Homo sapiens: one gene and its partner. The protein of the gene in region 1 interacts with the protein of each later gene in a pairwise test. Each region holds a gene or a part of one and is shown on either strand. Other genes may lie near its edges.

What was found. Proteins that work in one complex are often made in the same cells at the same time.
Region 2: the proteins of PRDM4 (region 1) and EIF4E interact in a two-hybrid assay, tested with the Homo sapiens proteins (one large-scale study listed by BioGRID and IntAct).

The regions. Positions count from the first base shown.
Region 1 is NC_000012.12:107,737,138-107,740,637, forward strand, and holds part of PRDM4 (PR domain zinc finger protein 4), read right to left. Parts: intron 2,528-3,500; exon of another isoform or gene 2,415-2,527; coding exon 2,246-2,414; exon of another isoform or gene 1,990-2,245; intron 1,353-1,989; exon of another isoform or gene 885-1,352; intron 1-884. UniProt on the Homo sapiens protein: May function as a transcription factor involved in cell differentiation.
Region 2 is NC_000004.12:98,898,134-98,901,633, reverse strand, and holds part of EIF4E (eukaryotic translation initiation factor 4E), read left to right. Parts: intron 1-3,500. UniProt on the Homo sapiens protein: Acts in the cytoplasm to initiate and regulate protein synthesis and is required in the nucleus for export of a subset of mRNAs from the nucleus to the cytoplasm which promotes processes such as RNA capping, processing and splicing.

The DNA of each region.
Region 1 (3,500 bases):
AGGAAGGGCAAAGCCAGGTTCTGTCACCACCCTTCCACTCTCGGGGGACACTAGGGGGGGAACTCCTCTTGCATTTGGCATTAGGGCTGTAGCTGTTTTTTTTAAGTAGATAAATAAAAAGACTGCTAATACTACTATATCCACTTTGAAATGCCCCAAAGTAAAAATACAAGCATCTGAAAATTTTACCAACGATCTCCATAGGAAGCCTAAAGCCTCATTCAAAACCATTTTGAGGGAACAGTGCTTCTTATAAGAATGACTTATACCAGCTTTAAGTTTTGACAGTCCAAAACCTTCTTTCTATCCCATGAAAGTTTGGCAAAGAGGCTTACCATATCTTCTCACCCTGAAAAGGAGTCCAGATCCACATTTGTTAAGCAAAAGTAAAATGAAAGGATAGAGGCTGATATCGACTTGATTCAAGCAAAACTTTTCCTCAAACTATAATTGTGTGATCTTTAAGAAACAATATATCCACTTGCCAGAGACATTGTGGAAATCAATCTTGCATGTGGATGAAGTCAGTAGTCCTTAACCCTGGCTGGCCACGAGAATCACTTGGGGAGCTTTTTAAAATACCAAGGCCAGAGCTCTAACTCTGACCAATTAAATTAGAATTCCCATGGATGGGGTCCTAGCACCAATTGTTGTTTTTCACATTTTCCAGGCAATTATAATGGGCAGTCTTCTGGACAAATATTTGTCCCCCCTCACCCCAAATTCACATGTTGAGGCCCTAACACCCAGTGTGAGGTGGAGCCTTTGGAAGGCAATTAGGGTTAGATGAGGTCATGAGGATGGGGCTTCCATGATGTAGGATTAGTGTCCTTATGAGAAGAGATTGGAACTCTCATATTCTTTCTCTTTCATTCTCTCAACAGAAACGTATTTTCTCACAGTCCTGGAGGCTGGAGTCAGAGATCAGGGTGCCAGCCTGGCTGGGTTCTGGTGGGGGCCCTCTTCCAGGCTTGCTCATGACTGCCTTCTCTCACTGTGTCTCTCCCGTTGTTTGAGCCACAAAATCTGTGGTATTTTATTATCACAACCTGAGCTGCCTAGACAGGATGTTAAGACTAGATGATCCGGGGATCTCTTTTGGCTCCAATATTGCACAATTTGATGTAATATTTGATAATTTCTGTCTAATTTTGTAAAATTTCATGCTAGCAATGGAACTAAAGAAGTCTTTGTTTTAGAATATCCTTCTGAGAGTTAGGAATGTAGATCCAGGCTCCTTGGCTGTTTAGCATCTCAGGCTGCATTGTGATAAGGAAGCAGACAGAAGAACTGGTATCAAAGCCAAGTGTTTATCCAAATTCTACATTAAGAATATAACGTTTTCAGTGAAGGTAAGATTTCTAAAGAGAATTTCCATAACATAAGCTGAAAACATTTTCTTCCTCTTCTGACACTTGTTAAAAGCTAAGGACAACAAAATCCATCTCTTCTTTCTATGACCACTGTGACTAATGCAGTCTAGACATTTAATTACACTTGGATTCATGCAATAAATACCTAATTGGTCTTCCAATATTTAGGCTTCCCCACCCTCAATCATCCTCTGTTCAGCTGCCTAAGTAATCTTTGTATTAACAGAATGGGTATGTCACTATGACACTCCTTTCCTTAAAATCCTATAGTGCTTGCACAACAACGTGAATATAACTAACACTATTGAACTGGGCACTTACAAACAGTTAAGATAACAATTTTTTTTTTTTAACTGCAATTCAGACAAACACACACACACACACACACACACACACACACACACCAACAGAACAGTTCCAAAATGGCAGGGGCTGGCAGATCCTTCAGTGTCTCGCCATTATTTCTGGACTGAAATTGAATTTTCTTAATAGGACCAAAGGTTCTCCATAGTGTGGCTGCTGACTCTTACTCTTCTCACTCCATCACTCTCTCACATGCACACTATCGTCTAACTATAAGCAACCACTTGCAGTCAATAGTCCTTTTTGTCTCTAGGTTTTTGTAGATGTGAAAAAAGAGTACATGTGAAAAGTAAGAAAAAGAAAGCCAACAACTGAAATCTTCCAGGATAACACCAAAAAAAGTGTTCCAACCTTGGCTTGGCTACATGGAACACAGAAGGCATCTACCATGGTACCAAGGCATGAAACAGATGAGCCAGGACTCCCCAGCCCTTCAATCAGCAGGTGGGCTGCAGCCACACAAAGGCTCACCACCTGAGGAACGACGTCTTGGCTGCAGGGTAACTTACTGAGTGTGGATGAGCACGTGCTGCTTGAGGTCCTGCCTCCGCATAAACAACTTGTCACAGTAATCACACTTAAGATTCTTCTCCCCAGTGTGGATAACCATGTGGGACTCCAGGTGAGCCTTCTGGGTGAAAGACTTGTCACACAAGGTACACCTGTAGTTCTTCTGACCTGCAATCAGCCCAAAGTATTACACCGTGAAGAAAACAACTGCTGGCATCCCCAAGACACACAGGCACACATATGTGCATGCAGCAGAGGCAGGAATGAAACAGAGCTGACTGGTAAGCAGCATTTTACTTTCTAGGGTTGTCTATGTGAGACCACTCAAGAGCTCCTGAGTTTATATTCTGCAACTAAAGCTAGTAAATTAATTTGATCTCCTTTAGGACCTCTGACCTAAATATGTATTTTTAAAAAATGTATAGGTGATACATAAAACTTGAAAAAAATGACTTATAATCCTAATGCCCTAACACAAACATAAAGAAAAAAAAAAAAAACTCATGAATTCTAGGACGTGTCTATAGGGAAACATACTTTTACAAGATAGATTTTATAGTTTTCTATCTTTTTAAAACATATAATATTGCCTCAAAACCAGGGATGAAACAAAATCCTTCCAAGAATGCAAAAATAAGATTCCTCTAAGGGGTCAGCAAACCTTCTCTTAAAGGATAGATAGAATTTTAGGCTTTGTGGGCCATAAGGTCTCTGTTGCAAAAGGATGGGGAAGAAACTTTTGAAGATCTGGAGAAAAGATGACCCCAACAAGAAAGCTAAAGCCATCAGTTATTTTGTAGTATTTATTAAAAAAAGTTAGTGGCCAGGCATGGTGGCTCAGGCCTATAATCCTAGCATTTTGGGAGGCTGAGGTAAGCAGACTGTTTGAGCCCAGGAGTTCAAGACCAGCCTTGGCAACATGGCAAAACCCCATCTATATTAAAAATACAAAAATTAGTCAGGTGTGGTGGCGCATGTCTGCAGTCCATGCTACTCAGGAGGCTGAGGTGGGAGGATCACCTGAGTCCTGGAGGCAGAAGTAGTAGTGAACCAAGATGGTGTCACTGTACTCCAGCCTGGGCAACAGAGTGAGGCCCTATCTCAAAAAAAAATTTTTTTTTTTCTTAAAAAGTACTAAAAGAAAGGTGTTGGTTTGCATGGGATTTAGAAAATGGAAGCTCAAAAAATAAACTGTGGCAATATTTATTGAGCAATAATATTAAAGGAGAGAAACTGGCTCTGGCTGGTGACTGG
Region 2 (3,500 bases), on another chromosome or scaffold:
TAAGTTCCCTTAAGGAGAAGTGAACTTGACTCAGGACAAAGACCGGGGATACTAGCATCATATAGGAGGCTTTTGTTGAAGAAGAATGCCTATGAAGGATGGACATACAAAGACAGTGGTGGTCGCCCAACGCGGTGGCTCACGCCTGTAAACCCAGCACTTCAGGAGGCGGAGGCGGAGGCGGAGGCGGGCGGATCACCTGAGGTCAGGAGTTTGAGACCAACCTGGCCAACATGGTGAAACCCCGTCTCTACTAAAAAATACAAAAATTAGCTGGGTATGGTGGCAGACGCCTGTAATCCCAGCTGCTCGGGAGGCTGAGGTGAGATAATTGCTTGAACCCAGGAGGTGCAGGTTGCAGTGAACTGAGATCGCGCCATTGCCTGCCAGCCTGGGCAACAAGAGCGAAACTCCATCTCAAAAAAAAAAAAAAGAGACAGTGGTGGTCATGGAAACCAAGAAGGTGGTTTATTCTAAGATAGGGTGGTTTACAGCACATGTGCTAAAAAGGTCAAATGAAGCAAGATGTCAAAATATCCATTGGATTGAACACTTTTAAAAAAGTCCGTGCTGACTTGGGAAAAAGTTTTTTAGTAAGGTTCCATAGAGTAGTTCCATAAAACATGGAAAAAGAGATTAGGGCAGTTTGAAGAGTGAATAGGAGATATACAGATGTATAGAGTAAGAACAGGTGACTTGAAGTTGGACTGAGAATGAGAAACGAGAGCCAGGGAATGTGGAGTTTGAAGGTTGGTTGGTTTGTAAGTGAGAGACTAGAAAAGGGGACAGATTAAAATTAGTTAAGTTTTCATAGTTAATAGTGTAACAGGAAATTGAGTATTAGTTCATTATATGGCTTTTCCCAACTCTTCCCACTCCTTTCCAGTAGGTTTGTTTTTATTTATTTTCTGGGGTATATGAGAATTAACTTGAGTTCACTGAATGCTGATGGTGGGAAGAAAATGGCAGTTCAGAAACATTGTAACAATCTAGAGGAAAGTAAATTGGAATTAACTTCTGAGGTTCTTGAAGTATTTCAGTTCATTTCTTGTCTTTTTTTGTTTTTATTTACTTTTTTTAGGGCAGACCATTCACTCTCTACTTAAAAGAGTCCACAAGTCTATTTATAATTGTTTCATTTATTAAAATTTTTTTATGATCTCAATTTTTTTAAATGTTTCCTTTATTCATCATGGAAGACCTACTGAAATAAATAGTTCAAATATGCTGTATGCAGTTTTCTCATAGGAGACCCTTTGGTTCAGTATATCCTCCAGTGAGGAACAAATCAGTTTTTTAGACAATGGAGATTCTCAGCTAGTGGGACATCAGAGGTCAAACAGTCTATAAAGGATAAAATCCTTCCTCAGGGAAGCAATGTACCACATGTATTAGGTTGAACAATTCGTTAGAGGCAGTCTTATATAGTTTAACCTAATAGTAGCACCAAAACCCACATTTTTTTTTCATTTTTTTCAGTGATATGAAACAAACTGTATATCTTCTAGCTGTCTGTGAACCTAGTTCTTGGTGTCACTTTTATTGTGGGGAGAAGTAAACAAGGCATATATCCCTCACAGCTTGAATGGAGTCTAAGAAGGGATTCTTAAGTGTCCTCATCAGTTTAAAAAAAAAAAAAAAGTTTAAATCTTAAAATGAAGTCTCTGGGGACTTCAGTTTCTCTATAAATTCTACTTTTTGTGTAAAATAGCAAGTATCATTTGGAAAAATACTATGTTTTATGGCTCCAATTTTGGCAGTTTTCTCATTATTTACTTCTTGCATTTTACTTTCTTCACTCCCCAGAGTAGTCAATGTTAAATTTGGTTTGTATTCCAGAAGTATTAAATGCACATATGTATACTTTTTAATACATACGTCTATACAGTTGACTTTTCTGTTTGTATGTGCATATTTTACCTCATTGTTTTAAACCACCGTCTTGCATTATATTGATATACCACCATATATTTTATTAGGTTTACATTAATGGCTGTATAGATTTTTCTTTTTACACACAGTGCTGTAATTTACATCCTTACATAATTGTGCACTTGTGTGAATATATAGGGTAAAATTTCAGATCTCCTAGAACAAAGATTACCCTTTAACAACCTTTGCGCAGATACTGCCACATTATTCTGTTTTATTGGCTTAGACTTAACAGTTTGAGAGTTCCTGGTTTCTATATCCTTGCTAACTCATGTGATTAGTCTTTTAAGTTGTTGCCAATCAGATTGGTCCCAGTCTGATTTGGGAAAACAATTTCAGTATTTTCAATTTGCATTTTAAAATTGAAGTTTCAAAATATTTTCATATTGATGATTTGTGGTTTTTATCTGAGGACAGATTATTCAGTTCTTCTATTTTTTTTCTTTTGGATTATCTTTTTTTTCCCCTACTTTCAAGCTAACAAGTTATGGAATATCTTTTCAAGTTTATTTCCAAGCATTTTATATTAGAGTGCTAACTCACCCAAGGCAGGGAAGTTGGAGGAGTATTAAGTCAGAAAGAAACAGGTTATCCATATCATTTGTCTTCTAACATTGTCTGTGGAATTGTATGGTTTTTTTTTTTTTAGAGGTCTTTAATTTTCATGTAGGCAAATACTGCTTTTCCTCAGTGGTTTCTGGGTTTCATATCAATTTTAGGAAAACTTTACCACACAGTTAAGCTTTTTTTTTTAAACTTTTTAATAGTTGCATAGTAGTCACTTGCGTGGATGTATGATATTTTATTTAAATCAGCAGTACTCAAGTATTTGGTCTCACAATTCCTTTACACTCTTAAAAATTATTGGTGACTCTACAGAGCTTTATGTGGATTTTTATCTATTGTTATTTACTATATTTTTACAGTAAATAATGCTAAGATGTTATTTTATTTTTCACATTTAAAAATGTATAATTTCACCTGAAAAACTTGAGAAATGTAAAATTATTCGTTTAGAAAATCTATCACATGTTAACCTAAGTGACATTTTGTAATGAAAATAATTATTTGAAATAAAAAATATATAATGGGAAGAACAGCATTTTTGCCATCTGTTTTTTTTTTTTTCGGAGTCTCGCCCTGTCGCCCAGGCTGGACCTCCACCTCCCGGGTTCAAGCGATTCTTCTGCCTCAGCCTCCCTAGTAGCCGGAACCACAGGTGTGTGCCACCATGCCCGGCTAATTTTTGTAGTTTCTAATAGAGACGGGGTTTCACCATGTTGGCCAGGCTGATCTTGAACTCCTGACCTCATGATCCACCCACCTCGGCCTCGCAAAGTGCTGGGATTACAGGCATGAGCCACCGCACCTGGCCGCATTTTTGCCGTCTTAGAAGTCAACTGGATTTTCATAGCTGTTTCTGCCTTCAGTCTATGGAGTTAAGATGTTTCATTGGAAGTATAAGAAGACAATACAGCCTCACACAGGTATTTGGTTGGAAAAGGGAGAATAGTTTTTAAAAGCCTTTAAAAATAATTGTTGATATGCTCCTTTGATACACTACTAGG